2 linked regions of the Homo sapiens genome follow. The protein of the gene in region 1 purifies or fractionates together with the protein of each later gene. This does not show direct contact. Each region holds a gene or a part of one and is shown on either strand. Other genes may lie near its edges.

The links. The genes of interacting proteins can lie anywhere in the genome.
Region 2: the proteins of FGFR1 (region 1) and XPNPEP3 purify together in Homo sapiens (affinity purification with mass spectrometry; 2 studies listed by BioGRID and IntAct, with this or other methods). This does not show direct contact.

What each region holds. Positions count from the first base shown.
Region 1 is NC_000008.11:38,461,514-38,466,631, reverse strand, and holds part of FGFR1 (fibroblast growth factor receptor 1 isoform 1 precursor), read left to right. Parts: intron 1-5,118. UniProt on the Homo sapiens protein: Tyrosine-protein kinase that acts as a cell-surface receptor for fibroblast growth factors and plays an essential role in the regulation of embryonic development, cell proliferation, differentiation and migration.
Region 2 is NC_000022.11:40,880,592-40,885,709, forward strand, and holds part of XPNPEP3 (xaa-Pro aminopeptidase 3), read left to right. Parts: intron 1-1,178; coding exon 1,179-1,586; intron 1,587-5,118. UniProt on the Homo sapiens protein: Catalyzes the removal of a penultimate prolyl residue from the N-termini of peptides, such as Leu-Pro-Ala. Also shows low activity towards peptides with Ala or Ser at the P1 position.

The DNA.
Region 1 (5,118 bases):
GGAGATGCGGCGTTGAGATTCGGGGGAGAAAAGAAAGTTCCCTTGGATCCCGAGTTATTTAAGATCTCACCAAGTTATTCGCCGCCGCTGGTGGGTGGCGGCGGTCCGGGTGCTTTCTGGATTGCGCAGTAAAGAGGCATCTTGGGAGATGGGGCCAAGGTTTTAGGGGGTGCCACTCGCGAACGGTTCATCCGCTAGACTAGGGGGGCTCTTTGGCTGTGCGTCTGGCCAGAACTGGCCTTGACGATGGAAGTTTCTGGAACCAAAGCGTTGCTTTCTCTCCCTTGTGTTATAGCTGGAGCTGCGGGAGCGCCTGCCCTGCCCGGAGCCCGCGGTCCCCTCTCGGCTGCCCCGCGGTGGCGTCACGCGCCCCTCCCGGAGCAAGCCCGGTGCGCAGGGCCGGGGGCGTGGGCGGCTGCTGCCAGAGGCGCTCTCTGTGTGTTTTTAAGGACTGATTTGGGCCGCATCCCCCGGAAACTAAAGTGGGGTGTTTTACCGTTTAAATAACGGCTACAGGTTTGAAAGCGGGGTTGGATTTTCGAGTTGTGTTTGGTAATAGTCTTTGAGGCAGGAAAGCGCCTTGTGGTCCAAAGTTGCCGGGAGGGTGGGGAGAGTCGGTGTCTTACCCGCTTCTTTCCAGCCTCTTTCAAATTGAAAACACTTCTCTGGTTTCCTTCTTTGGGCGGTAGTTTTGGAGGCTGTAATGAAATCGCACTTTCTCTAGACGTGGTAATTAAGGTGACTGTTTCCTCCGCAGATGTGCCCTACCCTTTGCACCTCCGGACCAGCGCTTTTTTTGGAATACTATCTAGCCTTGAGACTGTTTAGCAGAAAGTGGCCATTTTCCTCCCTTGGCCCGGGCTCCCGGTTTCCTCCCTGAGGCTTGTTTAAAAGCGAAGTAGCAGGGCCCCGTGGGACGCGCCTTGGTCTGGGTAATCACCCCCACGCCCGGGTCATCCACCTTCCTCTCGGTGACCGAGGTTCAGCAGCCTCTGCTATTGCCGGCCGTCTTTGCCGATGGCCTGCCTCCCTAATGACTTGTTTACATATCCTACCCCCAGTGGGTTAGGAGAAGCTCCGGGGCTGCCCCGACCCTCCGAGTGCAGGGTGTTTGGGGACCGGGAGGCTGCTGGGGCCTGACTCCAGCTGGGAGGGTTATGAACTGCATCAGTGACGAGCTGCTTGAAATATCTGTTGCATTTACTCTTAGTCATAGCTGAGTGTCAGCTTTTTAATGAGGTTCATCCAGATTGAGAGCCACTTGGACTGCGTACTTCACTGCCTGCTTTTCCAAACATGCCTGCAGAAATGCTCATTTTCGAGGTATTTTTCCCAATGGGAATTCAGGCCAGAGTGGGCACCACTTGAACAATCTTAGGGTGCTTCTTTTCCTTGGCCTCTGGCCATGGAGGGTGTTAGACAGTTCCATTAGGTGGCCCTTTGATAGCAAGGGAAGCAAAGGCTCAGGAAGAAATGGAGAAGCGTCCCCCACTCCCTAGGGGCAGAGGATTAGATACATCGGTGCATCCCTCAGGCTGGGCTAGCTTTATTCCTGGTGGACTCCAGAGGGCAAGAAAATTGAATTGAACACTGGGTAGGCAGATTCAAGCCTTAGAGACCAAGGAAAATCCATGGGTTTTGCTTTTAGTGGTGTGCTCTTTGTTTTCAGTATTGACCTGAAACAAGACTCCTAAAATGAGAGATTTGCTGGTATGAACTTGGGGGTTTAGCAGCCGGCTTCTACAAAGGCTTTTTTCTTGCCTTCGTTTCTAAAGTGTCTTTCGTCAAAATGGCTGTTAGTTATAGAACATCCTAGCAAAGTTTGAGCCTGTTGCTGCTGGAGGAAAAGGAGTTAGAATTGATTCAAATGTCTTATTCTGAAAGGGCCTCACATCACTTGATAGTTTAATTTCCTCCTGGGAAATTTGTGTCTTACATTTGTCTTCCCCAGAGCTTTGTAAAAGGCCTGAACGCACCAGGGACTAGTGGGAGCCCAGATGCAGAGCTTTAGAGAAGATTCTGGTGTTTCCAGAGAGGATGAAATGTCAGACTTGGGCTAGGATATTTGTTTTTCCTCCTAAGGTTGCATCTACTTTAAACAGAAATTCTCTCCTCGCCACCATTTATCTCTCCCCTGCAATGAAAGAAACCATGTTTAGGGCCCTCTCCCCCATTTAATAGCCCTCACATGGATGAACTATCCCAAGAATTTGGTGGGGTTCCACTCATAGTACATCCTGTCTTCAAGAGCAAGGTTTTCTAGATTATGTGCAGCAGTTCGTGTTTCACTTGTTGCTTTTTTTTTTTTTTTTTTTTTTTGAGATAGTCTCGCTCTGTCGCCCAGGCTGGAGTGCTGTGGCGCTATCTCAGGTCACTGCAACCTCCGCCTTCCGGTTGAAGCGATTCTCCTGCCCCAGCCTCCCTAGTAGCTGGGATTGCAAGCATGCGCCACCATGTCCGGCTAATTTTTTGTGTTTTTAATAGAGATGGTGTTTCACCATGTTGGCCAGGCTGGGCTTGAACTCCTGACCTCAAGCAATCCGCTGGCCTCGGCCTCCCAAAATGCTGGGATTACAGGTGTGAGCCATTGTGCCTGACCACTTATTGCTAATTTTTTATATGTCTCTTACTTCCAAGGACATTTAGACACTTTTTTTTTTTAAAGAGACTCAAAAAATTAGCATTTCCATTGGACCAACTAAAATTTAGCAAGCTGAGCTGAGTAACTTTCTCCATATGTTTATTAAGTACTTGCCCCCTGCCCTCTCAACATGTGAGTAGAGAATGGTCACTTTGGGGAAGAAATAAGTCTTATTCTCATCTGAAGGGATTAATGTTTTGGTGTTACTTCCTCAATTCTGAAGAACCAAGTTGTCCAGAAATTTTCTCAGGGTTCTTTGGACTAGAGTTTGGCTGGTTAACAAGGGGTACTACCTAATTGCTTTTCTCTGATATTCTCAGCCTCTTTTTCTGGAGGAGTATCTCTGTCAGTTTCTTTTCATCAGCCCTTTTTTTTCCTTCATTCACTTACTCATTCATCCAGTTAACAAACATGTTGGCATCTCCTGTGTACATGCTAGGTGCCGAGGGTGTTAGCAAAGGTTAGGGAGGCACAGACCCTGTTCTGAAGGAGCCTGCAGTTTCGTGGGGAGAGAAGAGAATGAAGAACATAAATAACAATCATATAATATGACCTAAGTGCTATGTGAGAGGGGCTAGTAATGTGGTTTGCAAATTTGGAGGAATGAAATTCTCCAGCTAGAAGGCCCAAGAAAGTCTTATGGAAGAAACAGCTTCTTAAGGTGGGGTTCAGAGAAAAGGGAAGGGCTGGCCTGTTGCAGAACAAGGAATGGCATGAAGAAAGTCTTGCACAGAGGCATGGATGTTGCTTCGAGCTGTGGCGCCCTATAGAAATAGAACATGAGCAGCTGGTCACAGTGGCTCATGCCTGTAATCCCAGCACTTTGGGAGGCCAAGGCAGGCGGATTGCTTGAGCCCATGAGATGGAGATGAGCCTGGACAACATGGTGAGACCCTGTGTCTACCAAAAAATACACAAATTAGATGAGTATGCTCGTGCTTACTGGTAGTCCCGGCTATTCAGGAGGCTGAGGTGGGAGGATCACTTGAGCCTAGGAGGCAGAGGCTGCAATAAGCTGTGATTGCACCACTGCATTCCAGCCTGGGGGACAGAGGAAGACCCTGTTTAAAAAAAAAAAAAAAAAAAAAGCCAGGCACAGTGGCTCATGCCTGTAATCCCAGCCCTTTGGGAGGCCAAGGCAGGTGGATCACCTGAGGTCAGGAGTTCAAGACCAGCCTGGCCAACATGGTGAAACCCTATTTCTACTAAAAATAAAAAAATTAGCCGGGCTTGGTGGCTCATGTCTGTAATCCCAGCTACTTGGGAGGCAGGAGAATCGTTTGAACCCGGGAGGCGGTGGTTGAGCCAAGATTGCGCCACTGCAACTCCAGCCTGAGTGACAGAGCAAGACTCCATCTCAAAGAAAAAAAGAAAGGAAGAAAGAAATATAACATTATAACATGAGTTATGTATATGTTCAGATTTTCTAGAAGCCACATTGGAAATTAAGTTAAAAGAAAGAAATAGGTAAAAAAAATTTTTTTTTTTGAGACGGAGTCTCACTTTGTTGCCAGGCTGGAGTGCAGTGGCGCAATCTCGGCTCACTGCAACCTCTGCCTCCCGGGTTCAAGCAATTCTCCTGCCTCAGCCTCCTGAGTAGCTGGGACTACAGGCGCGCGCCACTGCACGCAGCTAATTTTTGTACTTTTAGTAGAGACGGGGTTTCACCATGTTGGCCAGGATGGTGTCGACCTCTTGACCTCGTGATTTGCCCACCTCAGCCTCCCAAAGTGCTGGGATTACAGGCGTGAGCCACCGCGCCTGGCCAATATTTGTTTTTTAATTAACTTGTTTGTTTAGATTTTATTTAATGTAACTATATTTCCAAAATATTATCATTTGAACATGTAATCAATATAGAAATTATTGATGAGATACTTTACATTTTTTTCATAACAAGTTTTTAAGATGCGGTGTATACTTTTTACTTATAGCATATCCGTTAGCACCAGCCACATTTCAAGTGTGCAGTGGCCACTGTGTGGGCCACAGGTCTAGAATATAAGACATGAAGATGGAGAGTGAGAAATGCCTTTGGAAAGGTTGGAAGTTCCTGTCCTTCTGCTGCCAATTACCAAATCTCCTGAGAGTGCTATTAAGGAGTGACTCAAAGCACTACACAAAGAGAATTATAAATATCTTAATATTATATCTGAAATCCAAATGCATAATTCTTTACATTTGGTTGGTACTTTAGAGAGGAGAGAATGGGCACAGTCACCCACACCACCCATTTGAGCCTCATAATCACCTGTGATGTGGCTTCCTCTAGGTGGGAAACCGAGGCTTAGAACGGTTAAGTGACTATCCCAGGGTGGCAAGATCATAAGTGGAAGGGTGTGAATTCATACTGTCTCCAGCGGACAAGAATAAAAAGACCCAGGCTGGGTGTGGTGGCTCATGCCTGTAATCCCAGCACTTTGGGAGGCCACTGTAGGTGGATCTCCTGAGCCCAGGAGTTCATTACCAGCATGGGC
Region 2 (5,118 bases), on another chromosome or scaffold:
TTGAAATAATTCAGTATTACATTTATCTACAACTGTACAGTGTGTGTATATAAGGAAGTGAAATTGTTACCTTTTTAAAATTAAGAGGGGGCCGGGCACGATGGCTTACACCTGTAACCCCAGCACTTTGGGAGGCTGAGGCAGGCCAAGATTGCGCCACTGCACTTCAGCCTGGGAGATAGCGAGACTCCCTCTCAAAAAAAAAAAAAAAAACCATTGGCCAAGTCAGCAAAGGCCCTATATTGTATAGTTTCATTATATAAAATCTCTGCAGTAGGCAAATCCATAGAGACAGATAATAGATTAGGAGTTGCCAGGGGCTGGAGGATTGTGAGAAAATGGGGAGTAACTGCTCATAAACATGGAGGTTTTTTTTGTTATTGAAATGTTTTAAAATGCATTGTGGTGATGGTTGCACAATTATGTGACATACCAAAAACTCTTGAATTATATACTTTATTATTATTATTTTGAGATGGAGTCTTGCTTTGTCGCGTAGACTGGAGTGCAGTGGCGGGATCTTGGCTCACTGCAACCTCCACCTCCCAGGTTCAAGCGATTCTCCTGCCTCAGGCTCCCGAGTAGCTGGGATTACAGGCATGCACCACCACACATGGCTAATTTTTGTGTTTTTTTTAGTAGAGATGAGGTTTTACCATGTTGGCCGGGCTGGTCTTGAACTCCTGACCTCAGGTGATCTGCCTGCCTTGGCCTCCCAAAGTGCTGGGATTTCAGGCGTGAACCACCTCAGCTAGTCGGGAGGCTGAAGTGGGAGAATTGCTTGAGCCTGAGAGGCAGAGGTTTCAGTGAGCCGAGATCATGCCACTGCACTCCAGCCTGGGCAACAAGAGCGAAACTCTGTCTCAAAAAAAAAAAAAAAATTATATTCAATGAATATAACTGAGTGAGTAAAAGAATGAGCCAAAGACCTGGAAGAGATCTAAGGGGTCCATGATTCCAGATTTCAGGCGGGGCCACATTCAACTATCATTTCTTCCAAATTTTTGCAGTGGAATACAAGTTTGAAACCTGGTTATCTCCTTAATTCTCCATGTGCTGTGAGGAGATTTGGCATAAATTGAACAATTGGACTTGAGTATTTCCATCTAATATTAAACTACCTTAAGTACTTTGGCACTGCAGAAATGTAAAGCATCCCTTTTATTTGTCATTTCTAGGGGAGGTAACTCCAGGACTATCTCAGGTGGAATATGCACTTCGCAGACACAAACTAATGTCTCTGATCCAGAAGGAAGCTCAAGGGCAGAGTGGGACAGACCAGACAGTGGTTGTGCTCTCCAACCCTACATACTACATGAGCAACGATATTCCCTATACTTTCCACCAAGACAACAATTTCCTGTACCTATGTGGATTCCAAGAGCCTGATAGCATTCTTGTCCTTCAGAGCCTCCCTGGCAAACAATTACCATCACACAAAGCCATACTTTTTGTGCCTCGGCGAGATCCCAGTCGAGAACTTTGGGATGGTCCGCGATCTGGCACTGATGGAGCAATAGCTCTAACTGGAGTAGACGAAGCCTATACGCTAGAAGAATTTCAACATCTTCTACCAAAAATGAAAGGTAACAAATGGGAGCAGAAGTCACATTACAAACCAGATTGGGATTAAAACCTTTCTTGCCTGTTTAGACAAGTCCTTAATTTTGTTATCGTAGCACCACCATGAAAAGACCATGAGCACCATGAAAGAAATGTAAAGTCTTTTTCAGAAGATTGAGCTTCTTTAAAGATTTCATTTATGCCTGGTGCATTGGCTCACGCCCGTAATCCCAGCACTTTGGGAGGCCGAGGCAGACAGGTTCCTTGTGGCCAGGAGTTCAAGACCAACCTGGCCAACATGGCGAAACCCCGTCTCTACTAAAAATAGAAAAATTAGCCAGGCATGGTCGCAGGCGCCTGTAATCCCAGCTACTCAGGTGGCTCAGGCAGGAGAATCACTTGAGCCCGGGAGGTGGAGGTTGCAGTGATCCGAGATCATGCCACTGCATTCCAGCCTAGGCAACAAAGCAAGACTGTCTTAAAAAAAAAAAAAGATTCATTTATTCATTTGCAGGAGGTTACAGTGAGCCAGTGAGCTAAGATCCCGCCACTGCACTCCAGCCTAGGCGACAGAGCAAGACTCCATCTCAAAAAAAATAATAAAATGAAAGTATATAATTTAAGAGTTTTTGGTATAGTCATAGAATTGTGCAACCATCACCACAATGAATTTTAGAACATTTCAATTAAAAAAAAACTCCATGTTCACTGGATTATTCATTAATGGAGACTGTTACCTATCCTAGTTTGAAATCTCACAGAGAATTTTCTTTTAAAGCAAAGGATAAGCCAGACACAGTGGTGTACGTCTGTAGTCCAGCTACTGGAGAGGCTGAGGTAGAAGGATCGCTTGAGGCCAGGAGTTCAGGTCCAGACTGCACAACGTAGTGAGACCCCATCTCCAAAAAATAAATAAATTAAGGACAGGATGGGCATGGACCACTCTTCAAGATTACTGACCAGCTTCTTGATATTTGACAACTACTTCTTATCTTAGTGCTCTTGCCAGCTCTTCAAAAGGAGGTACTGTTCTCCAAGAACGATCCATGCATCACAGCATCAGAATCACCTGGTAATGCATATTAAAATTAAAAATGCATAATATGTAATAGAAATTAAAATCTCAGGCCTCCATCCCCTATCTACTGAATCAGAATCTGCATTTTAACAGATCTTTTGTGGTTCATATACAGTTGAGTTCTTTTTTTGTTTTTTTTTAGGCAGGGTCTCACTCTGTCACCCAGGTTGGGATGTAGGTATAGTGGCACACTCATGGCTCACTGCAACCTCGAACCCCAAAGCTCAAGCAGTCTTCCTGCCTCAGCCTCCAGAATACTGGGACTACCTGGGCACACCACTATGTCTGGCTAATTTTTTTTTATTTTTTTGTAGAGATGGAGTTTCACTTTGTTGCCTAGGCTGGTTTTGAACTCCTGGCCTCAAGTGAGCCTCCCACCTCAGCCTCCTGAAGTGCTGGGATTACAGGTGTGAGGCACCGTGCCTGGCCATAGTTGAGTTCTTGTCCCTCAAAGAAATTACTTTCTCTACAGTTATTCTGGTGAAATTTTAATCAATCCGAATGTTTTGAGATTTTTCTTCTGGGAATTTTTTCAGAACCTACACCACATTATAAACTATCTTTAGTAATTCTTAAAAAACTTTAGCTCTGGGAAGTATTTTATTTTTTGAAGTATCTTATTTGGAAAATAAGATAGATGCTCAAGTTTAAAAATACTGATTTTAGGTCAAGATAATGTATAATTATAAAGTTTTTGTTTGATTTTTCTTACATGGGTTACAAATCATATCTGAAGTTAGCTTCTAAAAGAGAATTCCAAAAATGTTTTTCACAATCATAAAATATATTAGACTGTTTCCTGTAAAGCCTCTTTTGGAAGAAAATACTCATTTGAATATGTAAGTTCTAATACATTTGATTAAATTCTTTTTATTTATAGAAATGTTTTCCATTTTATAGATAATTAGCCTGTTCAATTCATTGAACTTTCTTATGTCTTCAAAATCCACATAAATGTGGGGCATAGAATCATTTTCTTTCTAGCTTTTTTCTTACATTAGTTGCTACTTGTCATGTTCTACTGTCTAAGTTTTATTAATTCAGTATAGTTACAATCTCATGTAAAATAAATTTCTCAAAAGTACTTCTCGGTCACCATTCCTTTTTTTTTTTTTTTGAAACAGAATTTCGCTCTTGCCCAGGCTGGAGTGCAATGGCACCATCTCGGCTCACTGCAACTCCTGCCTCCCAGGTTCAAGTAATTCTCCTGCCTCAGCCTCCCGTGTAGCTGGGGTTACAGGCACGCGCCACCATGCCCGGGGAATTTTTCTGTTTTTTTTTAGTAGAGACAAGGTTTTACCATGTTAGTCAGGCTGGTCTCGAACTCCTGACCTCAGGTGATCCACCCCCCTCAGCCTCCCAGGGTGCTGGGATTACAGGCGTGAGCCACCGTGCCTGGCTAAAATCATATTTATTGAAAGGTTTAAAAACCTTTAAAAAAGTGAGCTATGATTTCATACACTTTGAACGTGTAGTAGAGATTGTTTTACTTTTTAAAAATTACAACAATTGGCCGGGTGCAGTGGCTCACGCCTGTAATCCCAGCACTTCGGGAGGCCAAGGGAGGTGGATTGCCTGAGATCAGGAGTTCGAGACCAGTCTGGACAACATGGTGAAACCCCGTCTCTACTAAAAATACGAAAAAATTAGCTGGACGTGGTGGCATGCGCCTGTAATCCCAGCTACTTGGGAGGTTGAGGCAGGGGAATTGCTTGAACCAGGGAGGTGGAGGTTGCAGTGAGCCGAGATCGCGCCACTGCACTCCAGCCTGGGTGACAGAGCAAGACTACGTCTCAAAAAAAAAAAAAATTACACGACAATTAAATTTCCATCTATCGTAAGTAGGAAGGTGTTTCCCATGTAGTATATATTTAGAACCATTTTTATTTTAAAAATGAAAATATGTAGGACATAGAATCACATAGGACATAGAATCATAGAATCAGTGCATATCCAATCAAAGTTTTCTGGATTTTTTCCCCTCTACTTTCCCCAAAGTACTTTTTAGTCATATAAAATATTCAGACCTTCTCACTTGGATTGTTAGGAATACTGTTTGTAGCCTACTGTTAGAAAAAAAGAACAAATGTAGATCTGATATTAAGTGCAAATCATTTTTATAATGAGCCTTTATATCGTATATCTTAGGCAAATACAGACCATTTCCTTAGGTCTCTAAAGTTGAAAGCTGAACTGTGATTGTTTACAAAGAGAATGTATAGCAGATGCAAAGGGAGAAGTGAGGAAATATCAACTGTAGTTTTTCCATAGCAATGAATAATTGCTCCAGAATGGGAGGAGAACCCTTTCCTCTAGTACTGAGATCATTATGTGAAAGGATGGGACACTTTACCCATAAAGTCATGATCTGAGTATGTTTTTCTGTCCTTCTGTGTGCAATTATTCAACAAGTGCCTCTAGCTCAGTAAGTGGTGGTGAAGAACAGTTGTTCTAATTGTTTAATAATGAAGGCCGGG